Linked DNA regions of Homo sapiens: region 1 is linked to region 2. Evidence: fine-mapped expression QTL. A gene starts in region 2. The other region holds a variant in brackets. All regions are shown on one strand. Distances are between the middles of the regions.

The links. PIP is the estimated chance that this variant, and not a neighbour inherited with it, causes the effect.
Region 1: its variant is the best candidate, but not a certain one, in a credible set for the expression of IFFO2 in regulatory T cells (Schmiedel 2018, PIP 0.59).

Annotation. Positions count from the first base shown.
Region 1 is chr1:18,922,364-18,937,597 of GRCh38, forward strand. All of the region lies in intron 1 of IFFO2 (intermediate filament family orphan 2), which reads right to left. Among named protein-coding and RNA genes, the nearest start is that of IFFO2, 27 kb to the right of the region's middle. RefSeq lists enhancers at 1-555, 10,366-11,353, 13,005-13,550, 13,551-14,095, 14,096-14,641 and 5 more. The variant G/A (reference allele first, on the strand shown) is at 11,540.
Region 2 is chr1:18,948,257-18,961,459 of GRCh38, forward strand. IFFO2 (intermediate filament family orphan 2) reads right to left here and starts at 8,420. Exons shown (of 9, transcript NM_001136265.2): 1 at 7,412-8,420. The coding sequence starts at 8,076. RefSeq lists enhancers at 1,925-2,844, 1,966-2,095, 3,226-3,355, 3,386-3,525, 3,726-3,775 and 1 more and silencers at 7,173-7,362, 7,603-7,862, 8,433-8,602.

The DNA of each region.
Region 1 (15,234 bases), 25 kb before region 2:
GGCCTCGGAGCAGGGCAGTCTGGAACCCTTTTAGGATGCTGTCAGGGCCAGCTAAAAATAGGCCAGAGGGGAGGGAGGGGTGGAGAGCCGGTTACGTCACCGGCTTTTGGAAACAAGAGAAAACGGATACTGTTTGCACACACAGAGGAAAATTCCTCCTCTCTCCCACAGGAGACAGCCCAGCCAGGGCTCCTGGAGGACACACACTCTCTCCCTCTCCCCCTTTTCTCCAGCCTTTCCCAGCCCCAGCATTAGCTGTTAGGCTGAGATCTGCGTGGGCTCCCGGGCCCGGACCTGGAGGGCAAGGGGCTGGGATTCCTTCCAGGGCTGGAGGGCACAGAGAAAGCTAAGAGGGGGCAGGGAGGGAACCTAAGGGCCTAATCCAGCCAGGACCATCTCACTGAACCTCCCCTCATTGTACAGATGGGGCAACTGAAGCCGAGTGGTCAAGCCATTTGCCCACATCACCCAGTATATCAGGAGCAAGGCTAGGAGTCCGGTCCCAGGCCACCTCTCACCGAGAAGAGCAGGCCCCATGTTGGGGACAGGAATCACAATGGGGGGAAAGTTCCCAGGCCACCCCATCCCTGCCCAGGAGCACAGGGCATCTGGGGCTTCTCTGGGGGGTAAAGGCTGGAGCACAGGTCCCGAGCTGAATCATCTCTCCTGGCCACACGGCTCAGAGCGGGGAAGGCGACTCAATTCCAAAGCCGCTGAGCAGGGCAGGTGCAAGGGCGAGCCCCGGCAAGCCTCTGGCTGCAGCCTGGAGTCTAGAGCGAACCTGCTAACACATCTTGCAGCAAGAGCAGGAGTAGCAAAGAAGGGCACAAAAAATAAAGAATGGCATGGCTCCTCCCTTGGACGCAGGCACCCAGGGGCACCTCCCCGACACTCCCCATTCCCCAGAGGGGCCCTTGGGAATGAGGCCCAGCACCCCTCACTTCTCCTTTGAGCAACCATCTCATGAGGAAGGCGAGGCAGGGGCCAATAGAACCCTTGTACAGACGGAGAAAACGAGGACCAGAGAGGGAATGAGACTTGCCCCAAATCCACCCAAGGTGACAGCAGGAGCCCAGATCTTTGGCTTTCCAGACACAATAACAGCAACAGCACCAGCAACCATTAACTGGGGGGTACGTTCTGGGCCCCACACACCCGGCTCACTGCCTTGGACACACACATCACTGGCTTGAATGTGAATTATTAACCCTCTTGGGGAAAGAATTTCTAACTAAGCCCATCTTGCAGATGAGGGAGCTGAGGTTCAAAGAGGTAAAGTAACTTGTCTAAGGTCACAGAGCTAGCAAGCAGGGAGCTGGGACTCAAAGCTAGTCCAGTCTCTAAAGCAGCGTGTCTCAGCCTAGAATGTGCATACCAATCACCTGGGCATCTTATTAACATGCAGAAGCTGGTTCCGCAGGCGAGGGCTGGGGCAGACAGCTCCCCAGTGATGCTGGGCTACAGATGGCACTGAGTGGCCAGGCTCTGAAGACCACACAACCCAGCCCCTCCACCTCACCTCTCCCTTCCTGCCCCGAGTTCTGCACCCTCCCAACCCCACATCTCAATCGTGTTTCCTGACTGCACATACCACACCCCCAGGATGAGCTTGCACAAATGATTTCACGGGCTTTTTATTTCCAAAGCCAGACGGGGGAGGCAGCCGGCTGGCCTGCTCCCAGGAGGTTGAGGACAGACCCCGCATGTGGACAGCAGCTGGCTTGACTGAAGAGCCTGTCGCCCGCCCTGACATCCCTCCCGGCGGTGGTGGAGAAAACCTGGCTCCGCCAGCTCCAGTGTTGACAATGCAGAAAAGCTCTGTCCTTGGATCGTTCTGAGGACTGGCATGAAGGGCCAGGTGGGCGATGTGTTTCTTACGGCACTCCAGACACCTGTATTCCCTGCCCACCCACCCAGAGCCAGGGAGCACTCAGCTTAACTGAGAACTGGTGAACCAAGTTGCTGGCACAGAGATTTCAACACCAGCTTCCCAAGCACAACCCTCCCTCTTCCCTGGGTCTGCCCACAAGAGTAAGGTTTCAGTGGGGAGGGTGTTTCAGGCAGAGGGACCAACAGAAACAAAGAGGGCAGCAGGAAGGGACAGGCCAGGCGCTGTCTGCCACCAAGAGGCGGGTGCACCTACTTTGGATCAGCGGTTTGCAGACATCGTTTCCTTTCAGCCTGCACCATCCCCTCTCCCAGCCCCAGCCCATGGCTGAGCAAACGACTTGCCCAAAGACTGCCTAGGAAGTGGCAGCGCCTGGATTCGAACCCAGGTCTGACAGAATCCTACGCCCGGGCCCTTTAAGGCTGAAAGGGGAAGGAAGGCTGGAGTGAACATAAAGAGATCACTTTTGGGGCACAAAGGCCATTTTCCTCGAGTCTCCCTCAGCAGTCCAGGAGCTGTTCTGTTGGCTGGGGAGGGGTCCTTTCTGGTCTTTTGAAGACTCCAGAATATTGACAGGCCTGCCACTGGCAGAAAATGAGGTGACAAACACATCCCAGTGCTCTCTGCAGGGCCTTTCCATAGATCCCCTCCATCATACTGCACATGCACTGGGCTGGAAAGCTACCCTGTCCCCACTTTACAAGTGGGAAAATGAAGACCCAGGGCCTATGGACAACTCCAGCCACGGCTGACACGGCCTGAATCACTGAGAGCCGCCCCTGCCCACCCTGACCCAACAGCTCATAAAACTTCCAAATCCTTCTCTTTTCTAGCGCTGGATGAGAGAAGGGACATTTATTGATTACCTTCTCGGTGGTATCCACCACATTAGGCACTCATACTTCCCTCTATAAAATCCCGCTGAGCCCTCCCCTGGGGATCATCCCCATGTTGCAGATGAGGCTCAGAGGTCAGGTAACTCATTTCCCCTCTTCCTCTCTCCTCCTCAGCCTCCTGAAACCCTAGCCATTCTCCCAGGCTTGTCTCAAATGTCATCTCTTCCCCAAGCCTCACATCCACTTCCATTGTTTGCCCCACAGCTTAAAGCAGTGGAGGCCCCAGGATCTCCTCTTCCCCAGTGGCATGGTTGTGGGATCCCACGGCACACAGCTCTTGCCCAAAGGAGCCAGTCCCGTGACGCCAGGGCCAGTGATGGCTCCATTGTGTGGTCACCGCCACTTCCACCTTCCCCACCGCCACCGGGGGCTGGCACTCATCTCGGGAGGTCTCAGGCACAGAGATGGGGCAAAGAGGAAGCAAGAGGCAAGTTCCCTGGTCTAGGTGGGAAAACAGGCACAGGAGCCGGGTCTCAGGTCGGGGGTCCAGTCCTTCTGCAGGCCCAGAGAGCTGGTTATGATGATCATTCCTGTGCTTGCTACTGTATTCCCTGCACCTCAAACTGGCTGGGCACTTGCTAAGGAGTCAGACATTTATCGAATGGATTGGTTGGATGGATGGATGGATGGATGGATTGGTTGGATGGATGGATGGATTGGTTGGATGGATGGATGGATGGATGGATGGATGGATGGATGGATGGATTGGTTGGATGGATGGATGGATGGATGGATGGATGGATGGATTGGATGGATTGGTTGGATGGATGGATGGATGGATGGATGGTTGGATGGATGGATGGATGGATTGGTTGGATGGATGGATGGATGGATGGATGGATGGATGGATGGATTGGTTGGATGGATGGATGGATGGATGGATGGATGGATGGATGGATGGATGGATTGGTTGGATGGATGGATGGATGGATGGATGGATGGATGGATGGATGGATTGGTTGGATGGATAGATGGATGGATGGATGGATGGATGGATGGATGGATCCAAAGCTGCACTTACTCCTCAGTGCCCTGATGGCCCTCGCCTCCAGACAGAACTCCTTTCCCCCAGAGCATCCTTAGACTGAACATCCCAGCCCAGGGGCTCACAGGAGGCAAATTCCCAGCATAGCCCCTGCACTCAGCTTCATCCATTCGGCTCCAGAGCCTCTCCTGGGAGAGGCCAGGCCAGGCCAGGGGGAGGGATGGCCAGGGCAGGAAGCAGGCAGGAGAAGGAGAAACCTTCCCTTTCCCACTTCCCACAGCCCTGGGCCAGGGAGGGGAGGCAGGGATGTCAGAACAAAGAGTGCAGGGAGAGGAAATGACTCCACAAAAGCACAAAGCAGCTGAGATCAGGGGCCTCGGCCACCATCTTAGCAGAACAAGCACTCTCTGAGGCTGGTGGCCAGGAGGGAGAGGTGGCAGCACCACCCCAGCCAGATGTGGTCTCTCCGCATTCCTGAGGAGCCACCACTGGAACCACGTGAGGGACGAGAAGTCTCTGCTGGCCTCTGGGGAAAAGGGGTGGGCAGATTCTATGCCAGTCCCCACCCCCACCCCACTCAGGGCCAGTGCCTCCCCCTCTCCCGTCAGCTCAAGATGACACACAGACCCGCAGGAAAGGGACCGACAAGCCTGCCCTACAGAGGGGCGGAAACCCAAGCTGAAGTCACCAGCAGAGGGGCTGACTCACAGATTTTTCACTTCCTGTGCAGTCAGAAAAAGAGGCTCGAGGCTCCCGCTCAGGAGGAAAGTAGGTGCAGGCCCAGCAAAACAATGAAGCCCTCCAGGGACGAACCTGGGGCTCCTGGAGTGAGCATCCCAAGACACCAGGGCAGCAAGAGACGGGTTCAAATCCTGCCCCATCACTTCCCAGTTGCGTGATCTTGAGCAAGTCAGTTACCCTCTCTGGGCCTCAGTTGTCCCCTCTGTGAGTTGGGAAACCAGCCACCCCCTTTCGAAGGTGGCTGTGAGAACTACAGGAAGGGGATGGTGTGGGTAAAAGCACCCTGGCATCCAGCAGACCATGGGTGTTCAGCAGCTCCACGTCAACGGCACAGCGCATGGCTGCCTCCCACCTCCAGAGTTGGGAGGGAGGTGTGGAAATGGCCCACACCTTGCGGGAAGGCGAGCGGCCGGCACGCCTAGGCCGACTCACTCAGGTGAAGGGAAATGAGCTCAGGTGAGGCTGGGCTGGAGCCCTCAGTGGAAGACTTCATTCTGGGCCAAGCGTGGGCCTGGCCTCTGGCAGAGGGCAGGTGGGGGCAGAGAGCAGCTTCCTTCCCGGCGGGTGGAGGGCTGGCACCTTCTCAGCTCCACCCTGGCCTCGGGGAGCTCACCCCACTGCAGCAGGGCTGGATGCAGGTGGCCAGGGAGCTGTGCTGGAGCCCGGCTGCTCAAACCACAGATTTGGCCCAGCCAATGCCCCTCAGCTCTGCGCTGCCCTAGCTCCTGTGTTTGCCCACCTGCAGATGCACAGAGGCATCCTCACAGCAGAGCCAGGGCCAAGCCTGGGGGCCCCAATCAGCTGTTCTTCTCTAAAATAATATCTGAGCTGGAAGAAGAGGCTGCAGGCACAGTGGTAGACCAGGGGAGCCCTTTCTGCAAATGCAGTTTTGCAGAAGCTGATGGATTGGGAAGACCAGAGCAGGCTCCCCGGTGGGGTCAGGGCTGCGTGCCCCCAACAGCCTCCACTTGCTTCTTCTGAGCCCTTCTAGAGAACCTGAAAACCACAACCGAGTCAACTTCCTCCTTGCACACCATCCCCCTCGAATACCACAGACAATTCATATTTAAGGCAGAAAGAAAATCCGATAAGGGAGTGGGAGTGGGGCAGGGCTGGGAATACAATGTGGAAATCCCGCCACCACTGCTAACACAGGGCTCACCTCCTGGGCAGCTCAGCACTGATGCACGTGTGGATGCCTTGCCTCCTGACTTTCTCTCCCACATGGCACGCTGCAAGCCCGTCTTCTCCCCCGAAAATGGACAGCCAATAAGCTCTAGCCCCTGCGCATGAAAGAGGCCCCCTCCTGCCTGCCCCAAGCCCCACCCCCTGGGGACACCTGGCACCACCTCTTGTGGCCTCCCGGCTCCCATCTCCATGGAGCCCCTGATCCCAAGGAAAGGCTGTCTCGCAGACGTGCCCATCAGAGCCCGGCTGCCCAGCTGTACTCTCCAGCTCTCGGAAGGAAAGACAAATTAAATGCCAACTGATTGTCTCCACGGAGGAGGTATTAATTTAATGTGAACACTTAACCAGGGCAGCCGATTCCATTACAGGCGGGCAGTAATGGCCTGAGCAGGACGGAGCACAGGCTGTACACTGAGGATGGGGGCCAGGTTTGAGAAGCCACTAATCAAGTGTGCCCCCAGAACACTGCCACCCACACAGACACACAGAGCTGCTTTCAACCAGAAACGGCAGCCTCCTCCAGGGATCCCAGCGTGCCAGGTCTGCGCAAGGCTGCTCAGGGGAGAGGCAGAGGGGTCTGACATCCATAGGGAAGTTCCCTGTGGAAGAGCGGGTACTGGGCTAGGAAGCAGGAGGTCCTGGTTCATGCCCTGGCTGCGTTGCTAATTTGCTGCATGACCCTGAGCAAGTCCCTTCTCTGCCCTGGGCCTCAGTCTCCCCATCTATAATAGGATCTCCCAAAATCCCTCGGGACATGACATTTGCAGTGTTATTTGCACGCCCTGGATAGGGCCCTTCCTTGGAGTCCAGAAGTGGTGACAGCCTCAGGGATACCAACTCCATCCGGAGTTATCCTGGGTGCCATCAGGGCTCTGACAGCCTGCACTCAACAGCAGACACCCGCTGGGTGCCCTCTCCCAGAAGAAGCAGCAGCGTGGTGTGGGAGCATGCATTCATTCGTTTGCCCCTCACTCATTCATTCCATAAACAGTTCCTGAGGGCTTGCCACGAGCCCCGCAGGCCTTAGAGAGTCAAAGGTTGTAGGCAATTCTGCAGAAGGAAGGGCAGGTGAGCTGAGAAAGTCATCTGCCTCTGTGTGATCCCCTGAGGGCCTGCCTACCTCAAGCTAGGAGCCTCAGTCTCCACTTCTGTAAAACGGGGATAGCAATCCCACCTTGTAGGGCTCATGGATGGATCAGGAGAGCAGGCTCAAGTGAGGCACACAGATGCCCTTGACAGATGATGCCCATGCTCTTCACCGGTGTCACCCTGGCTCTACCCACCTGGGGGAGGGAGGGGCAAATGGGTGGGTGAAAGTCTGGGCCCCCTCAGCAAGGACACTTCTCCAACCTGTCCTGGCCCTCTGGGGACCCAGGAGCAACTGAGAGAGGCAGCACTGAAATCGAGTTGCTAAGGAGTTTTCCCAGCAAGGAGGTGAAAGTGAGTCCCATCGCCAGGCAGGGGGGATGAGCTGTGTGGGGTCATCACATTCCCCCACCTGACATTCCCCTCACCTGACATTCCCCCCACTTGTTTCCTGGTGACCAAGGGGCCCTTTGCAGGGCAGCTAGCTGGTCTCTGGGCTCTCTGTGGTGACTTGAGAGGTGAGAGGTGAGTGGGAAAGAACGGCAAGCCCCTAACTGGGCTCCGGCCCCCCAGCCACACACCCCTTCAGGCAACGAGGCAGCAGCCTTGTGCTGGAAGTCCTGAAGCTAGTCCTGCCTCTGCCCCAGCTGGCTCCGTGATCTTGGGCAAGTCCCTTCCCCTCCTCTGGCACCACTTTCCCATCAGTAATGCAATGATGTCAAACTGGATGAATTCTAAGGGCCCACCCAGCCAAGCCAGAAAACAACTGCCATGATCCCTGGACAAGCATCCTACACTGACCACAAAGCCGCCTGACAAACCACAAATGCTCAAAAGCCAGCTGAGACGTCTGTCCTTGCGTTCCAACCAGTGTGTGTAGTGGAGAGGGGAGCAGGGACTCTGGAGCCAGAGGGTCCTGGGATCAAATCCCAGCTATCCATCTTGCAGTTCTGTGACCTTGAGCAAGCTATGACCCTCTCTGGGCCTTGGTAATACCTCCCAGCTCCGAGGGGTTTTGCCCACATTCCATGGAATAGCATATGAAAAGTGCCCAGAATAGTGCCTGGTCTACCATGAGCATGCCATTGGTGTCATTCTCATCCTCACGACCTCCCAATGACAGCTGCTCAGAGAGGTGGGGAGAGGCTGGGAGAATGCTCTTGGACCACATCGTAAGTGAGGGGGTCAGACTTGAACCCAAGGCCATCTGACCCCAGAGCCACTGTCTGCATAACAGTCATGTTGTTGATAGTCATGGTAATGAGCTAGATGCCGCCTTCACCTGGCTGGGTGGCTGGCAGTACAAGGGGACAGGGTGGCAGAAGGAAAGAAGCCAGATGCTAATGCCACAGAACCCCCGTCAGCAAAACCCACTGAAAACCCTGCTTTCACCGTCCACACCCCATAGACATACCCCAGGAACTAATGGGCATGCCCAGCCCTTTGAGGTCTGTCCTAACAAGGGCCACTGTGGCAGCAGGTGGGTCCAGGGCAGGAGAGCCCAGCTGGTCTCATGGCACCTTCCAACACACACAAGGCATTTAAGGGTATTCACCCAGGCCAGCTGCTGGCTCTTTTGGGCAACATGGGGCCCAGGGAACCCCCGGGTCACCTGCCCCAATGCCAATCTGAGGTTTCAGTTGTTTTCTGAGCCACCTGTCCAATTCCCTCCTGTCTATATTTGCCCAGGTTCCCAGCATCACTGCCACTTGGTATTGCTTATTGAACACAACTTTGGAGAGGCTGAACATGGTGGCTCACGGCTGTAATCCCAACACTTTGGGAGGCTGAGGCAGGAGGATCATTTGAAGCCAAGAGTTCAACACCAGCCTGAACAACATAGTGAGATCCCATCCCTACAAAAAATTTTAAAAATTAGCCAGGCATGGTGGCACGCACCTGTAGTCCTAGCTACTTGGGAGGCTGAGGTTGGAGGATCCCTCGAGCCTAGTAGTTCAAGGTTGCAGTGAGCTAGGATCGGGCCACTGCACTCCATCCTGGGTGACAGAGTGTGACCCTGTCTCAAAAACAAACAAAAAACACCTTTGGAGAAACTGCAGCTCTGTGGACACCCATAATCCCAAGCAGCATGCTTGGCAGTGCCCTCCTCCCACTGCTTCTGTCTAGAAACTACACCCACGTGGGCACTCCCCCTACCCCTAAAAAACCAGGCCACTCCAAGGAGGAAATTGTCTCAACCAGCATCTCACAGTGAGGAAAAATCTGCATCACAAATTGCAGGCCACCATGAAGTTTCTGGAGTACCACTGCCAGCCTCTTCCAGGCTTGGGTACCCCTTCATCACCTCCTCCAGGGAGCTTTTCATGACTTCCCCAGAATAAGTCACTATGCCCATTCTGATGTTCCCAGTCCTGAACCCACTCCTTCAGCACTGGCATCCAGGGGCTGTGAATTTTCACTTCCCTGTCTCTCTCATCAGACTCCACTCTTCTACGAGAAGGGAAGAATTTGCATTTATTGTAAAATGCTGATTAGGTGCTAATCATTCGACACCCACCATCTCTAATTCTCACCACAGTTCTGTGAGCCGGATGTTATCATTCCCACTATACACACTCAGGTGAAATGACCTGTTCAAGGTCAAATCCAGGTCCATATGGCTCCCAAGCCTGGGCAGCCTCTCTATGGTCTGATGGTGTCTCGTCGGCTCCATAAGCCCCACTCCCTGCCCACACCCCCAGCACATCACTTAGAAAATGCCCCTGGGTTACAGTGCCACGGTCAGATGCACAGATGTGTACACATGGGGTCACAGTCACTGACCTGGAAACAAAGCCACTTTGCCCATGCACTTATTTCTCAGCGCCAGAGAACCCAGGGTGCAGGAAGGCCTCGGCACACCACCACCTCCACTGCCAAGGCAACGAGCTGGGGCCGGCACGTGGTGAGCAAGAAAGGCACCAAGCTCTGGAGCTGGACGGAACAAGGCTCAAATCCCAGTGGTACCAACCACACGCTCCCGGGCAAGTGATTTCCAATCCCTAAGCCTCCCCATTTGGTCATCATAAAGATCCCCCCTGCCTCTGGAGGCTGCTACAGTTTGTGAAAAGGAGGGTATACACAGGCTCCGAATAAACGGAGGCTCTCGTCCCTTCTCCGCCTTCCCTGTCACTGGCTCCAGGGTCTGAGAGAGCAGCAACCTTGTTTCTCTGGTCTGTAAAATGGTCTGTTTCTTTCTGGCTCCACTGCGCTATGGAAATCGTGGGGTTGCGGGGAGGCTGCAGCTTGTCATCCAGCCCCCAGGCACTGACTGCAGAGATCCCACCCCTGACCCCCCCAGACTGGGATGCCAGGAGGGGCAGAGGATCTGCACTTCTGAGCTGTGTGCCTTGAGCCAAGCACTTGACCGCCTGTGCTCCAGGTCCCCTAGCTTTGAGCAGGGGCTAACGGAAGAACCTGCCTTGCCAGGTTGTTGTAGTAAATGAGTCAACACACGTTTCACACTTAGCACAGTGCCCAGCTCCCAGTAAATGCTCAATAGATGGAAGCTATGATTAGTCATGGAACACGGCCTTTCTGCTGTCCTCCCTGCCATGGAAAATGGGTAACTCAGCTGGAGGGCAGTTCCTCTGTGTAGACTGGCCAAGGCCCCGGGGATGAGGCAGGGTACCTGGGTGCCAAACCAGCCCCCTCTGCTACCAATGCTCGGCAACACACCGACAGTCAAGACACACAGGAGGACGTCCCATCTCCCTTGTATCCAATTCGGCACCATATCCCAGTGCCTGGCACAAGACCTGGCACCAAGAGAGCCTTCATGAGCGAGCGTTGGGTGTTTCTGGAGACACCCAGGCCCGGCAGCCCAGAATATCTCCCACAGCCCAACTCAGGCTGGCTGCCGGCTTACATTTCATCTTCTTCCCCCAGGACAGAATCAACAAACATTTCCCAAGTGCTCACCCAGGAGCCAAGTGCTGGGGACACAGAAGTGGATTAAGAGTATTCTCTTCCTGCTGAGAGAGGGGAGGCGAGTTCCGGAGCTCTCGCTGGGGCAGGACCTCTGGCTCCTCCAGCCTCAGATCCTCAATCCCTTCAACCCAAGAAGTGTGGGAAGTTCTGGGCACTGGCTGCCTTGTGCCAGGCAAGCAGGGATGGAAGGGAATGCTCACCCTGGGACAGGGGGCATCTTCCTCCGTCCATGAGTGAAGGGGCCCCATCCAAGTTGCCACTGCCCATTTGTACCCAGGGGCACGAGAAAGGAAACCAAGCATCCACCATCACACTGAAAACATTGGTTCCCTTCAGCAGCGACGTGGGTGGCTGGGGATTATGGGGTAGAACTGTCACTCTGTCCCCTCTGTATCTTTTCTTAATACACATAACAGGCCAGGCACGTTGGCTCACGCCTGTAATCCCAGCACTTTGGGCAGGTGGATCACTTGAGCCCAGGAGTTCCAGACCAGCCTGGGCAACATGGCGAAACCCCATCTCTACAAAAAATTTAGCCAGGTGTGGTGGCACCGCTTATAGTCCCAGATACTCAGGAGGCTGAGGTGGGAGGATTGCTTGAGCCCAGGACCTCAAGGCTGCAGTGAGCCAAGATCGCGCCACTGCACTCCAGCCTGGGTGACAGAGCAAGACCCTGTCTCAAAAATAAATAAATAAATAAACCATATAACATAGAATTTACCATCTTAACCATTTTTAAAGTGGCATTAAGTGCATTCACACTGCTGTGCAACCATCACCTCCATCCATCTCCAGAACTCTTTCATCTTGCAAAACTGCAACTGT[G/A]CCTGTTAAGCAGTAGTACCCCGTACCCCTCTCCCCGCAGCCCCTGGCAACCACCCTTCTACTTTCTGTCTCTGTGGATTCGACTTCTGGGTACTTTGTATAAATAGAATCAGATAGTATCTGTCCTTCTGTGAATAGCTTATTTCTCTTATTTCTTTTTTTTTTTTTTTTTTTTTTTTTTTGAGACAGCGTCTCACTCTGTTGCCCAGGCTGGAGTGCAGTGGTACAATCACACAACTCACTGCACCTCCACCTCCTGGGCTCAAGCAATCCCCCTGCCTCAGCCTCTGGAGCAGCTGGGACTATAGGCATGAGCCACCATGCCCAGTTAATTTTTAAAAATTATTTTTTGTAGAGACGGGGTTTCACCATGCTGTCCAGCAGGTCTCGAACTCCCGGGCTCAAGCAATTCTCCCACCTTGGCCTCCCAAAGTATTGAGATGACAGGTGTGAGCCACCGCGCCCAGCCTGGCTGATTTCATTTAGCATAATATCCTCAAGGTTCATCCATGTTGTAGTGTGTGTCAGAATTTCCCCTCCTTCTGTATCTTTTTAATTTTGAATGATGTCATGTATACCTGCTCAAAACATCAAAACCACTTAAATTTTTAAAAGACAAAAATACCTGCTCGTTTTCCCCTTGCTTTAAATTGCATGAGTGTTTACAATGATTACACAAGAAATAGAAAAAGAAAAAAACAGGTAAGCCAGATAAAACCAATGTAAAACCCACCCAAATGAATCCCCCTCCCTGAGAGAATTACGGTTAACATCGGCTCTATATCCTTCCCAACTTTTTCTTATGAGATTTTCTCTTCTTATGAGATTGGTTTTTAACGACAACGGGATGCGACCATATGTGGTTTTCAAATGCATTTTTTCCACCTAACAATATACGGCAGCATCCTCCCGAGCAGGTGACACAGCAGGTGGCTGCAGGGCCACTGGTTTGATGGGTCCTCCACTGTCAGCGCAGAGTCCTTGCAATCTAAACAAGACTGTGAACACCTTTGTACCCTCACATTTGCATATGTGTCCAGGTATCCCTCTGGGATACCCAGATTGGGTTTCTGGATCAAGTGTGCAGATGTAGAAAAGGCTTTTGTGCCCCTCTAAAGAGCCATGTGTGACGTGTTAGAGAGAACGCTCTCTGGCATTCTCTACCACAGGCTCCCAGTTGCCCAGGGAGCCAAGGAAAAGCAGGGTCCTGGGCCCTTACTCCAGTTCCTGCAGCAACAATGTTTTGTGCCTTAGTTTCCTCATTAGTCAAAAGATTGCCTCCGTTGGGTGCAGGAAGACTCCGCTATAAATACTGTTCTTCCTCACCAGTGGCCCTCTACCTTCCCCAAGGAGCAAGGGTTGGGAGATCAGGCTCATCTGAGAAATGGGCCAGACACTTCTTCTCCAAAAGGGTAGACAGAGGTCTCACCTGGTGGGTGATAAGCCCTGGAGAACAAGGCCACGTGCTAGGGTAGAGTAAGGCTGAATAGCATCCCCCCAACACCTCCAGCCCCCCTGTGCCAAGCTCCATCACACCTCCAAGGCATGGGCTGCATTCTCTGCCCAACAGGTTCTACACCCCTTCCCCTTTGTCCTTTTCCTCTCTCTCTCCCTTACCTAATGTGACTTCAGGACCCAGCTTATAACCCCCTCCAGGAGGCTGACCCGACTCCTTGGTCAGGGTCAAGTGCCACTATTCTGTACTACAAAGGCTCTGGGCCACTTGGTATTGAGGTTACTGATCCCCTGCTGGTCTCCTCTGCTTAACTCATCTTTCTTTTCTCTCTCTCCTTCTGTCTTTTTTTTTTTTTTTGAGATAAGATCTCGCTGTGTGCCCAGGCTGGAGCACAGGGGTGCAACAACAGCTCTCTCGACCTCCTAGGCTCAAGGGATCCTCCTGCCTTAGCCTCCCAAGTAGCTGGGATTATAGGTGCATGCCACCACACCTGGCTAATTTTTCTATTTTTTTTTTTTTTTTTTTTTTTGTAGAGACAAGGTCTCACTATGTTGCCCAGATTGGTCTCAAACTCCTGGGCTGAAGCGATCCTCTCGCCTCAGACTCCCAAAGTGCTGGCATTACAGGTGTGAGCCACTGCGCCCGGCCCTCATCTCTTTCAAGATCAGGCCCATCTATGGGTCACAGCTGCAACTCCAGTGCCCAGCACAGAGCCTGGCACATAGGAGGCCCCATAAATATTCACTGGATTAAAAAGGCCCAGTAAGTGTCATCTCCAGGGCCTTCTCTAGGAGATCCAATCTAGGCCAATGCAGCCCTGTCGCCTTAGATATGGCCACCCTGCCAGCCCCTCCCTGCCAGCCTCAGTTTCCCCAAACAACCTCCACAGTCCAGGCCAACTCTGCTACTCTCTTCTCTGCACCTTGAAGCCTGGGCCTACCTTGCATGGAGCAGATGATGGGAAAGTTGGTGTCCACGGCTCTCCATCCCTGGGACATTGTCTTTCTGCCTAGGCCTGGCCAAGCCCCCATGGACCCTCCACCCCATCCCCATCCCGTGTCTGCTGGCTCTTGCTTAAGTGGAAGCCAGCAGGGGGTCTGGGCAGCAGGTCTTTGGGCACTCAGGTCAAGAGGCAGGAGGCCCAGGGGGTCTGTGCCCAGGAGAGTGTGGGGGCCCCCAGGCCCAGGGTTATGTTTACAGCTTTGAGAAAAACAGCAACTCCCAAGGCTATTTTGGAAACCTAATATGTACTTTGGGTCTCTCCACTGTTTATTCCAAGTGACTGTGCTGCCCTGGAGGTAAATGTAGGGCACCTCAGGGTAATCTCCCGCATACTTACTCACCCGCAGCCGCCCTGGAGCCAGCTGCCTGGGAGCCCAGATTTTCCTTATCATGTGCAGCCTGAAAAAATGAGGGGCTGGCAGCCAGGCAGAGCCCACCAGGCAAGAGTCAGCACACCTGGGTTGAAAGCAAGGCTCTGCGGCCTTAAGCCAAGTCACTTCTCTAGGGCTCAGTCTCCTCACCTGTAAAATGGGTGAGAATGACCCCACCTGGATTCAATGAGGATGTGCAAACACAAACTGGCTGCAGGTGGGGCAAAAAAAAAAAAAAAGCACAGAACACAGGATCCTAGGACATCAGACGGGGAAGTCCAGGTCATTCATAAATGAGAAGTCTGAAGCTCAGAGGTGGGAGGTGATATGTCCAAGGTCCCACACAGGCAGCGGCTGGCTCAGTGCAACTCCAGAGACTAGGAGCTGCCTGCCATGCCGCTGGTAAGGGGAGGAGAACATTCCAGAGCAATCTCCAGGAGGGAGGAGGGAAGAGTGACAAGGACCCAGCTAACAAAAGACACGTGGGGCTTGTGCAACCAAGGATGGGTAACAGGGCAACGGTCACCTGTCTGTGCAGAGCCGTCATGGTCCTCACTAGCTGGGAAGGGGCAGGTTCCAGCGCAGCTGAGGCAGGTAATTAGACTGCAAACACGCGCACCAAAAGAATTAGTGACTAAATACAGCTCAAGGGGATGGACTCATTACTTAATCCCAGGCTCCTGTCATCATGGCGGGCCCTGGCATTCCACCTGATGTGAACCACTGGGGAGTGTGGAGGCTGAGCACCAGGCAACCCCACAACACACAAACAAGAGTGTTCCTCCCAACTACCCATGGGGCTGGAGAGAGAAGTCAGTCCCCTTAAGATGAGACGGGGAATGAAATGGAGCAAAGCCTCCCAGGGA
Region 2 (13,203 bases):
TAAGAAACCACACCCCCATTGTACAGAGCGACAAACTGAGGTGCAAGAGATTAAATGGCATGCACAGAGTTGTGCTACATTACGGAGAGAACGTAGTCTTCATAGGGTTGCTGGGCAAGCCCACCTTCCCACTGTCCCCATTCCCACGTGGGCATAGTGAAGCTCAGACCACATCGCAGGCAAACCCAGACCAGGACCTGGGCTCCACGGACCCTCCAGAGAACCAGGCATTGCCATTTGCCAGGTTTACTGTTGGGTGAAAACTACCCTCTCTTGTACCAGGTCTAGAATGAGAAACCACATCCTGCTCAGGAAGCCAAGCACCCGGTGCCCAGTGTGGGTGGGAGGACACTCCCCTCGTGGGCAGGCGGCGGCAACATCACAAACCTTCAGCAGTCTCCCATCTGGCCTGGAATTTTCTAAACACCTCACAGTCTGGCAATGCTCAAAGGGCTGTGCAACTCACAGATGCTGCCAGCAAAGGGCACGGGACACCCTCTCCCAGTTTCCAGCTTGGTTCTCAACCTCTGCCCACCCCACAGGGCCAGCACAGATCTGCCTCTGTAGGGCACCCACTCTCTGCCCTGTGAAATCATTCTGAACTTGACTGTTTACACGCCCTGTGCTGTAGCTAGGCGAGCCTGTCTACTTCTTCCACAACCTCCGGACACAGAGCTTAGCATCCCTGTTTTACAGATGAAGAAACTGAGGCTCGAGAGGCAGTGACTAGCCCAAGCTCACTCGGCTTTTAACTCCTGCCCTGGGGCCCCAGCACCCTGCACTGCCAGGCTTGGGGGTTCATTCAAACTTTGAACTTTGGCCCAGGCCTTCTGATTCCAAGTGCAGGCCCTCCCCTCCACAAACAGCCGAATCCCTGGACGTGGTCTGTGTTGTCCGTCTTCTGTCCCATCCTCCTGGAGGCCTACTAGCTCACAGCAGCCAGACACAGAGGCCTCCCTGCTGCATGAGTATTTACTCAGCATGGACCTTGGCCAGGTCCTGGCTGGGATCTGCCAGTGGGAGACGAAGCCAGAGTTGGAGCCGGCCCCCACAGAGCTTCCAGTCGATGCAGGGGCAGACACATGCCAGGTAGTTACAACTCCGGGTGTGGGGGGCTGTGATCGGGAGGTGGTGGGTGCTTAGGACCGCCTGACAGCAGAAAGTCAGGAAAAAGCAACACATCCCTAATCCTGAGCACAGGGACATGACAGGGCTGCCTCCTTCCCGTCCCGGGCCTTCAGCCATCCGCGACATAGGAAATAAATGGAATGCCAGCCGGCCTTCACCTCTCAATGCGATCAAAAGCCAGGACTGCAAATGCAAAGCCCACAGCCTCCGGTGTCACTGACACATGGCACAGTTTAAATCAATTCTCCTGGAAGGCAACGCATCTCGTTGCAGCAAAGGGCGTGTTCAAATTCCGGGTCTACCCTTCTGTGTCCTTCAAACACGGTCATGTGTGGGGACGTGGGCCACAGGACTGAACGGAGAGTCTGGTGTGTGCATCTGCATGTGTATGTGAATGTGTGTGTGTGCACGTACATGTGTGTGAGTGTGAGTGTGCATACACGTGGGGGGAAGGGGGACCCGGGGACCCGCATCCGGTCTCGTTTGCCAAGGCAAAGCCCCGCCTCGCATTCCTCTGAGAAGGAATCTTCAGCGTCAGCTGTCTCCCTGCTTCCTTTTCTTTTCTGGGACCTCATTCCCCTCCCTCTAGCTTGAGGCTCTGAGAATCGCTCCCAAATTTGTCCCCAGTGAGAATGCCAACCCAGCCAAGGGATTCTGTAATATAGTTCTCAAGGGACCCGAGGCGCTAGATGGAGGGGTTTGTGTGTTTCTCTTAAAGGAAGTTGGGAGAAAGGGCTGGGGGATGGCGAGAGATTTCCGGAGGCACAAATCAACTGCTAAGAGTAGGTCAAACAGCCTTCTTAGATGCCGGACAAAGAAGCAGCCGTTCTCCCTCCACCCCCAACACCATCTCTGGCGCCTCCATGGGACAGAGAGAGCGGCGACATGCCCTGAAATGGACTTGTTAGGCAGTCAGGGCCATGCTGAGAAATCCTTGTAAATTAAAGGAACAGACTTTGCCAGGGGAAGGGGGCTGGGCTGGGGTGGAGGTAGGTATGCCCAAAATCTGCCAAGCCCCAGGTACCTTAACACCAGACCTCATTTGTTCCTTCTCAATCCCTGGGAGAGCAACAAGATGATCCCTCTTTTACAGAGGACGAAGCGGGGAGCTCCACGGGCAGCTCAGAGAGGCCAAGCCACTTGCCCATGTTCACACAGACAGTGGCAGAGCCAGGATGCAAAACCCTTTTCCACCATCGAAGGCTGCCTCACTGGAAAATCAGAAATAAAGAATCCGTATCGGTGCCAGCTTCAGAAATAACGAAAGTGTCAATGGGAGTGGCAGGGAACAAAGCCCTCAGCTTTCTATTCCAGGGCAGCCTTCGGGCTTCGGGACATTCAGGGGCCAGCACCCACCTGCTTGAGGGCCCCCCTGGGGTGTGACGGGAATGGGCGGGGGACACTCCAGCTGACCCACCCACCATCCCTTTTTGGAGTCCTCCATTCCAGCCGACAGCCCAGCCCCTTCCGGCTCACAGTCAGAAATAGCTGTGACAAAAGTCCCTCCCATCCCAGAAAGTGGCTTTTTAAAAAAATGTTTAAAACAGACATACAAAAAGGTGGAAAGAACATAACAAAGCCTCGACTGCTGGCGGATGATGCGGGCATCATGTCGAGGCGGGGAGGCCAGCTCTGCACGGCAGATGGAAGGTCTGTCCAGCTCAGCACTGAGGGCCAGCCCCCCTCTGGGCCTTGGTTTCCCCACCTTTAAAATGAAAGTACTCAGCTGAATCAGCGGTTTCTTTCTTTTTAAAACAGCAGAACCCTTTTTAAAATGGAATACTTTTTGGACAGTCTGGGAGTCAGAGAGGCATGGAGCTATGGTGGGCAACATGGGTCAAATCTCAGGTACTCAGCCTCCCACTGTCCCCCGAGTCTCCCAAGGCGCCCTGCTATGGACTCCAGGGCTCTAAAAAGCCCACCTGAAAGCCACCAGGCTGAATGATCACAGTGGTCTCTCCAGGCTCCCAAACCACCCTCCAATCACCCCAGGCACCAGGAAAAAAAGAAACCTAGCCTCCAGGCTGACTTCAACTGGGGGGCGCATACAGTCAGCCACTCGCACGGGAGGGAACCAGGCCAGCCAGCTGCAAATCACACTAGGCCTGAGGGGGCCAGGATGGCTGGACAGGCTTCTGGACAGGGACACCAGGCCCCCAAAAGAGTCGCCCTGTCTGATAGGCAGCTAGGCCAGCACTACTAGCGCCGGGCAACTTCCTCTACCAGCCCAGGGCAACTTCCCCTACCAGTCCATGGCAACTTTGTGACAGCTGCCAGGCTGGAGGGACCTTTTTCTTGACAGCCTTAAAGATTTCCTGCATCCTTCCTTGGAGCCAATGAAGACAGGGGAAACGGTTGAACCGGTTAAGCCTGGGGATGGGATGGCCAGCGCTGCCTATGCCTGGAGCCTGGACCCTAGTTATCTGGGGCAGAGATAGGAGAGGGAAGGGGAAGCCCAGAACAGAGAAAGGCTTCAGCGAACACAGTGTGGTCTCCAGAGGCAGAAAGATCAGCCACAACACGGGCCTCTTGGAGTCACTGACCTAAAGTAGAGAGCAAGCTGAGAGAGATCACCCACAGGAACTCCTGCATGTAAAGGTGGAGGAGCTGAGGCCCAGAGAGGGCAGCGGTTGGCCAGAGGTCACACAGCACCTAGTGGCAGAGCTGGACCTAAAGTCCAGGTCTCCTGGATGCCAACTCAGGGAACTCTCCACTGTTGAGTTCAGATAAACTCAGTGGGAAACTCCAGGGAAAAGCCCCCAGCTTGCAAAGTCAGAACAAGATATTTTAGTGGCCCTGGGTGGTGACAGAGTAGAGATGTTTGTTTTGGTTTCCAAATCAACGCTTGACAACCTCGTCCTCATTGCGGCTTCAGCGACCACATTTCCCACGTGGTAAAGACCTGGTTGGGCCAAGGGAAAACCAAAGCAGTGGTGACTGGGGCCAGGACCCAGGCACCCCAGGCCAGGGGCTCTGGTTTGGGTTGGTGTTTCCAAAGCACAGTTTGTGGACCACTGATGGCACATGAGATGATGCTCGGTGGTATACAGTTGACGTTTTAAATTTAAAATACATTGAATACCTGGGTGGATTCATAAACACAATATGGTCTATACTACAGAGGAATATTTTTAGCTATAAAAAGGAACAGCCTACAAATACATGCTACAACATGGATGAACTTCAAAAAAAATTCTCTAAGTGAAAAAAGCCAAACACAAAAGACTGCAGAGTGTATGTTTCTATTTCTATGAAATGTCCGGAAAAGGCTAGTTTCTAGAGACAGAGCAGGTCAGTGATTACCTGGGCTGGGCTTGGAATTGGAATTTTCTGTAAATGGACATGAAGGATCTTTTTGGGGGCTGATGCAATGCCCTAAAACGGGATTGTGGTAATGACTGCACAACTCTGTGAATTTACTCATCTTGACTTGTACACTTAAAATGGGCAGTTTTTGTGATATGCAAGTTGTACCTCAATGAAGTTGTTAAAATATTTTATGTACGTAATAGCACAGGCGGTAGTACATGGATGTGGCCAGAAATCATGGAGGTGGAACTCAACAAGCGTCCGGCTTGAAGATCGCTGAGCCTCGCAGCCTAAGTTGTCCTTTGGGGAAGCAAGTGGGGGTCTCTGGAGCTGCAGCTTCCTCCAGGTGGACCAGGGGAAACCCTGGAACCTTTCCCTTCTGGGTTAGGCTCCTTCTGGGCATCATTGCTTGGAGTTCTGTAATAGATATCCTGGGATGATTTAAAGCCCTTCATGGCCACAACAGTCCAGGCAGACACCTGGGTCTCATCCCTTAGACGGTGACTTCTCTTATGGCCAGGGGATCAGAAGCGGGCTGGGAGCTCAAACTCAGATTTATATATTGCCAAGGCTGGGAAGACCCTTTGAGATCATCTAGCCCAGTGGTTTTTCAACTTTTTAAAAAATGTTTATCAAATGTCTGCCCTCCTCCCCAAAGAAAATTCTTAGGGATACCCAAAACATACTACTAACAAGTTAGCATGTTAGTAGAACCCAGTGAGTTAATATTAAGAACTTAAAGGTGGGTGAGCACATTTTTATCACTGTATTAACGTCTTAATGTTCTTTTAAATGATCATTTTTATTAGATATTCAAGGAAACCCTAAAGCATCTCTAAGAAAGCCTGGGGTTTCAAGGACCGCAATTCTAGCCCCCCCTCAACCTCACTTCACAGACGGGGAAACTGAGGCCCCAGGAAAGGAATATACCTGCTTTGGAAAAATCCAACATGAGTCTTGAGTTAACTTCAGAAAATAAATGGAAGACAAGGTGTGCACGCATCCCAGAAGGGCGGGAAGAGAGACGCCCGCACTCCACCTGTCTCAGCAGCACCGTCTCATTCCAGGCCAGCGCCAGAAGCTGACATCACACCCCACGCCCTGGGTGCAACTTGAATAGATCGTTGCTCAATGCCAACCCATCTCCCTCCAAGACTGGGCACGGTTTTTCCATCACCTTAGTAGCCAGGTCCAAAAAGCACACACACAATAAAACAAACACAACACAAGCCTGAGGCATGACAACACAATCAACAGTGGCAGACAGGAGGGCCCGGCCCATCCCTCCCCAGTTTCACCATTGAGAGCAAGTGCCTGCTTCCCTAGCCTGCCCCAATGACATTGACCATGAGGGGCGGCGAGGTGGCCTCCCTGTGGCAAGGCACCAGGCGGGCCATTCTCAAGTCCTCCAGAGAAACAGGTAACCCAGGAGAGAAGCCCGTCTCCCAGTGGAGTGTAAGACCTACCCCCAGGAAGCTAGGCGCCACATGAGAGAGCTTGAGGACTCTCAGCATTTCTACTCCCTGCTAGCTTGACAAAGTGCCTATCATCTTTAATAACACCAGCATGATTACTTTATACCTCCCAAAGAGCATCACCATCCTGCTGTCTCCTCGAGCAACTGTGGGCAGATTTTATTATTCCCATTTCTCTGATGAGCAAACAGGCTTTCAAGTGATTTGATAATCTCACCAGCAGGTATAAGGCTGGCATTTGAATCCTACCCAGTTGCTAGCCTGTCCAATGGGAGAATACGGAAGGAGACCTATGCCCAGCTCCCTGGACAGACCTTTAGAGATGGAAGGAAGGGTCCTTCTCAGTACATCCTCCAAGCCCTGGAGTTCAGAGCCAATAGCTCCGAATGGAAGGCTGCCTGTGCCTGGAACAGCGATTGCCAGGGCCAGAGGGCCCCTTCCCCAGCCAGGCCTGAGATGCCAAAGACAGACCCTTCTTCTCTTATGGGAAGAGGAGGAGGATAGGAGACCCCTCTCCTCTTATCGGAAAGCCAAGCAGACAGTATTGTCGGCCAGACTGCAGACAGGAAGCAATGACAGTTTCCCAGCTGGGGAATCTGGGCTAGGCAGGAATGCACTGGCCAGTCTTGCAGAGTCTGGACCCCAGTTCTAGCCAGAGATTGTGGTCTCAGTCCATTCAATGTCCAGTCTCCAGCCCAACATTATCTTCTCCTGGGGGCTTTTAAGGCTGAGTTTGTTAGGGCTCAATAAACCATGAGACTCAGGGAGTGGGGAGAAGAGGGATGAAAGGAGGCATTTTATAAAAGCTTGTGAGCAGTCTGTTGTAGTTGTGGTTATCCAACCCAGCAAGCTGGACCTTACAGAGCTGGAGCAAGACGGCAGACACTGGCCCCAGGGGGTAGGGGCAGATCCATCCATTTTCAAAAACGTGATCTCATTTAATTCAAGAAATAAAAAGGCAGTGGGTTGGTTAGAGTTTTTCTTTTCATATGTTGAGGGAGGGGAGCATATTTCCTACTTCCTTGGTAAAAATACTTATGCTAGGAGACAGACTAGCCAGGAGTGGTTAAAATCTCTGGTTGAAATCCCGGTTTCACCACTTACTCGCCAAGCCACCTTAGGCAAATCACTTAGCATTTCTGCACCTCGGTTTCCTCATCTGCGAGATGAGGATAAGACTGCCTTACACAATACGCTGTATTGTGCTGAGAATTAAATGAGATCGCATAAAACACAGACAGTTATTATGTCACCTAGAAAACAATGTGCCTCACCAGTGACAGCATCGAGGTGGCCCCCACGGTAGCCAGCGCCCGCCCCCATCCTGGGATCTAGATAACTGGGCCTTCCTGGCGTACGTAAGACGCTCTGCAAACACAGCTTCCAGCCCACCTGCCAGTACCAGCTGCCCGCCCGGCCCCCGTCCCGCATACGCATTCCGCGGCAGCCTGGACCTGGGCGCCCCGTCCCAGGGCGGCGGGGGAGGGGCGGCCACTCACCTCCGCTTATACTCGTCGCGCTCGCGCTTCACCTTGGCCAGCACGTTGTAGAGCGCGCGGATCTCCGGCGTGATGGTGTCGATCTGCACGCCCACGCCGTCGGGGTGCACCCACGACACGCCGGGGCCCTGCACGGTCTCCACGCCGCCGCCGCCCGTGCGCCGCACCTGCGTGTAGCTCCAGATGGTCCCGGGCAGGCGGCCGTAGTGCTGCGGGTGCGAGCCGCCGCCGGGGGGCAGGCCGCCCAGGGCCACGGCATTGGCGTTGGCGCCGGCCGCCGCGCCACTGCTGAGGCCGTGCCCGCCGCCGGGCGCCGGGGGCCGCAGCAACTCGGGCCCGGTCTGCACGGCCTGCTCGCGGGAGAAGGTCTTGTAGCGCAGCCGCCGCTCGCGCTCGCTCTGCTGCTGCTCCAGCTGCTTCTCCAGCAGCCGGTTGCGCCGCTCCAGCTCGTGCACCTTAGCCAGGAAGCAGCGGAAGCGCACGTTGAGCCCCTTCAAGAGGTGGATGTTGGAGCCCAGGTCGTCCCGCAGCGCCGCCGTCACCGGCGACGGACCCGGCCCTGCCCCGCCGCCGCCGCCGCCCCCGCCAGGGCAGCCCCCGCCGCCGCCGCCCGGCGGGCAGCCGAAGGCCAAGGCCATCTCCCCGAACAGCAGCGAGTTCACCATGCGCCGGCTGCGCGGCTCAGGGCCCCGGGCCCGCGGCTCCAGGTGCGGCTCCAGCTCCGGGCAGGGCTCCCGGCGCGGCCGGGCCAGGGTGGGCGCGGGCTCCAGCGCGGCCGGCCGGGCGGTTCCAGATGCGCGCCAGATGCGGCCTCCGCAGAGACGGCAGGACGGATGGCCCCGGATGCGGGCGCCGAGGCGAGAGAGGGCACTCGGCCGCTCCTCGGGACGCGGTGGAGGCCGCGGTATCTGCGCGGGGCCAGAAGGGTCGCGGGTCTCACCGCCCGGGCTGTCAGAGACGCTGTGGAGGGGCCGCGGCAGCCGCACGCAGAGGACTCTCGGCCGGCACTGCCCCTTCTGCGGCGGGCCCCGCCCACTGCAGACACTGGCCCCGCCCCCGCCGCGGCCCCGCCCACCCCTCCTCCCTCTGCGGCGTTCCCCGAGCCCGAGGCTCCGCCCCACGAGGCCCGCAGCGCCGGGCCCCACCCACAGACCCTCGGCTCCGCCCACCTCCGGGTTCTCCCGCTTTCTCCGCAGCATAGACTCCGCCCAGCTCCCCGGCGGGGCCACGCCCTCTCCTGCGTCTGGTCCTGCCTCCCCGCCGGGTGCCGATTCTCTGCTGGGGGACCCGGACCGCAGAGCTGCACCAGGGACCGGGTTAGCTGGAACCGCCGCAGAGCCAGCCGGGCCTCTTAAAGGGGCCAGCAGCCTCGGCAACGCTCGCTTTCCACTTTTTAGGGCGCTCCTCTCCCACGTCGCCTGCCGAGAGGGCTCCGTTTCTCTGTCCTCTCTGCCCGCAATGCCCCTGGCCCCAAATTCCTTCGGATGTGCGCGACCGCGGCTGGAAGGGCTGGGGGACCACAGTATCCGAAGGTGCATCGGCACCCCACCCCCACTCTAGCCTGGGGAGGCCCAGATCGACCTTTCGGGGATAAGAGGGCGCCCGTGCCCCACGCTGCGGACCCGGGGGTGGGCTCCTCGAATGCTAGCTGCGGGCCTTGTCCTCTCGAGATCGGCCCGGGCACAGCTAAGCCCGCTGGTTCCCCCGCCCACTGAGGAGCCGAGCAGCATGGGGGTTGGGGAGGCCGAGCAAGACCCTCCCGGGATGACACCCACAAACTCGGCCTGGGCCTCGCCTCTGCTGAGCTGCTCAGCACCTCCCCACCACCCACACCCACACGCTGAGATGAAGCTGACCCCGAGAGCTGGGGATTCATTTCACAGACATGGGGCTTAGCGGGCCGCCTGGGGCAGACCGAGGCAACCCGAGGACCCATTCATTCATTCATTCATTCATTCAAATGTTTTCACACCTACCACGTTAAAGGCCAAGTTCTCCAGTCTCTGGTGTCTCCTGAACCGTGTTGCAAACATTAGTATATGTCAGGCGCCATACTTATTTATTATCCCCATTTTACAGAGAAGGTCACTGAGACGTTAAGTAGCCACAATGGTCCAAAGTGCATGCTCTAACCGGCCTTCCACAATGCTGGCCTCGGGCCTCGTGTCCATTTCCGCATTTGGTCCTCACCGCAAACCTCAGAGGGGAGGTGACCCCCACCTTGAACCCCCACCTTTGAACGCCTGTGGCTTGCATTGTATGCACTTAACCAGATATGTGGCATGTTTCAGATACTTCCGACTGCATTTTTTACTAGCAGTTTAATTTTTGTCTTGTTATTAACTTTTGTGTTTGTTTTGTCTCTTTGTATGTAAGCTTGAGGACAGGCACACTGTCTTACATGGACAATGCCTTGGTGTTCTTGGTGACAAAGGAGACACGGGCTTGCCCTGGAGTGATGTGGCTGTGATGTTAGTCTGCTGTGTTTTTGATTTAGCCACAAAAGCAAACCTTCCCCATAGTTCCTTCCCTCAACCACAGTTCCTTGCTTCCTGCCAACACGGACTCACCTTAAACACCCAGCTCTGAAACTCACTCATCTAGAAACCTTTCTCTGCTTAACCCAACCCAGTCTGGACACTGCCCTTTACTCTTCGTTCTCTCGTCTCTTGATGATGTTCTTGTTTATCTAACCTAAGGAATCAAAACCCCTTTGCCTTGAAGCAGAGGTTCATGGACCCCCAAGAGGACTGAGGATAGAATTCTGGGGGGTCCATGACACAGGGGTGGACAAAAGTTATACCTTTAGCCTCACTAATCTCTAAAGGCTTTGTTGTCTGTTTGTTTATTTGTTTGTTTGAAACAGAGTTTCACTCTTGTTGCCCAGGCTAGAGTGCAATGGTGCGATCTTGGCTCATCACAACCTCCACCTCCGGGGTTCAAGAGATTATCCTGCCTCAGCCTCCCAAGTAGCTGGGATTACAGGCATGCGCCACCACACCCGGCTAATTTTTTTGTATTCTTAGTAGAGATGGGGGTTTCTCTATGTTGGTCAGGCTGGTCTTGAACCCCCAACCTCAGGTGATCCGCCCACCTTGACCTCCCGAAGTTCTGGGATTACAGACGTAAGCCACCGTGCCCAGCCAATGGTTTTTAACATATCCTTTGATTATGAATGTAGGCAGCAAGTAGATGTCCCTGTGATTTTGTCACTAGTAGAAATCACAGGTATTTATGTAACACACTACAGTTATTGTAAACATCTCAAGATATCATCTAAGCTACGAGAACTGTGAAATTAAAGTCATATTAGACCGACCACTAAATCTTATTTAATGTATTAGTAAAAGAGAACGTATGTTACTATATGAGAAATTGTTAATAGTTTGATATCTATTTTTAGTAAAATGACTTTTCATAGTAATCCTAATGCCTTTTTAAAAAAATTATTCTCAGAAGGGGTCCACAGGCTCCACCCAATGCCTGAGTGGTCCCATGGAAGAGAAAGGGTTAAGAAGTCACACCTGGGGAGTGGCTCCCTGCAACCTCTTCCAGGAAGGATCTGTCCTTCCAACAAAGTTGCCCTGGAATTGGGGTGTGCAGCCCTCCTTGAGGGTGGGGGCAGCCCTGCCCTGGGCCCTGGAGATATTCAGACTTTCCGTGATGACTTGTGGAGCACCTGCTTCGGCACAAATCCTGCATTAAATGCAGAGGAAGGAGCTAAAGGGGCTCCAGGGGAGCTGATGGAGACAACCAAAAAAGACCATCCTGAGGCATGGGAGTGGGTGCAGAGGGGGGAAAAGGAGATGGCCAAGCAGAGCCCAGAAGATCTGAAGGAATTGAGGGAAGTGGTAGCTGGACCTGAGAGGGTTTTCAGCTGAACCCTAGAAACATGATATGTGCAAACAAAATGGCTTGAAAATAGCTTCGTGGCCACATAGGAATAAAGGCGGGTGCTGCGTGTCTTGCTCTTTGTGGGTAAAATGTGAGGTTAGGTTAACCTAACAGTCCTCCAGCTAGGGTGACCAACCATCCCAATTTATCAGGAACTGAGAAGGTTTCTCTTGATGCTAAAACCTGGAAAGTAAATCAGAACGAGCAAATCAGAACAAATGTGTCACCCTACTTCCAGCCCATATCAATCTGGAGGCATCTGAGGCCAGAAGTCCTATAGTTCAGGATACAGCCAGCCCAGATTTCTTGTTTCAGGGACCAGAAAACTGAGGACCACAGAGAGGTAAGGACTGACCCAGGTCTCCTGAATAATTGGTATCAAAGCCTGGTCTGGAATTCTGGTCCCATTCCCTTTCCAATGGTAGGTCCTCCCTGGCCCAGACAATGAATTCAGTGGTCTCCTCCCCTTAACCCCAGACACTGGCAGGCTGGCTCCCCCATTCAAGATCCAAAGGGGGCTAAAGGTGGGTCCTCAAGGCAGCGGAAGAGTTCCAACAGACAAAGGAACATCCCTGTGGGGGACGCCAGCCTCCTCTCACTAAACAAGGATAATTAGGTTTTTGTTTTTTGGCAGGGTACCTCCCCTTGACCCTCAAAGTCACAGCGGTGTGTCTAACCTGTCCAGACTGTTTTTGGAGGCAAGAGTGGGGAGTGGAAAAAGGTGGGCTTTTAAGACAAGAGATTGGCTAAGGTTTGTATCTAAGTCACTTTACCTCTCTGAGGCTCTATTTCCTCATCAGGGAAATGGGCATAACTGCTCTCAATGAACAGTTGCTGAATGAATGAATAAAAGAATTAAGAAATGAATGAGAAAATGACTTTTATTCTTCCTGCCCCACTCCCCAGCCATTTCACCTGCTAACAACTCCTCATCCTTCAGGTCCCAGCCTCAAGCACGGAACCTTCTCTTCTCGGAAACTTCTCTTCTCGGAACCTTCTCAAGTACCTGCCAGGTCTGGGTGGAGGGTGCTTCCTCCAGGCTCTGCCAGCACTGCCCACCCTGTGGCAGCCCCAAGTATACGCTCTTGTCATTGCTGGATTTCTCATCTGCATCTCCACCCCTTCTAGCCCAGCCTTCTAACACTTGCTAACCCATATTCTCTATTAGAGCAGAAGCACTTGATCAGATTCACCCTGGAACCCATATCCTGGCATGGTACCTGGCACATAATAGGTGCTCAACAAAGATGAGTTCAGGTGAACAAATGAATGAGCTGTTAGTTACTGGAGAAATTCCTGTAAAGTGGATCATGGCTGCTTAGGAAATGTTATATTTGCAGAACGTAATTGCATTTCTTTTTTTTACTTTATTGAGGAATATTTTACATATTATGTAATTCACCCATGTCAATGGTTTTTAATAAATTTACCAAGTTGTGCAAACAACGCTATAAACCAGTTTTAGAATATTTCATCATCCCCACTCCTACCCCCTGCCCCAGACAACCGCTAATCTGGGATCTGTCTCTATGGAGTTGCCTTTTCTACATATATCAGATAAATGACATTTTACAATATGTGATCTCTTGTGTCTGGCCACTTTCATTGAGCACAATGTCTTTGAGGCTCATCCATGTGGTAGCATGTATCAGTAGTTTGTTCCTCTTTATAAATGATCTCTTTTTAAATTTCAATAGTTTTAATTTTTCCTTTTCTGTACTCAGTTCTTCATCTGGAAATAAGACTATAGGACTATCTGACCTGGGGCCAGGTGCAGTGGCTCACACCTGTAATCCCAACACTTTGGGAGACCGAAGCGAGTGGATCACTTGAGACCAGGAGTTTGAGACCAGCCTGGCCAAAGGCTTAACACCGTCTCTAGTAAAAATGCAAAAAAA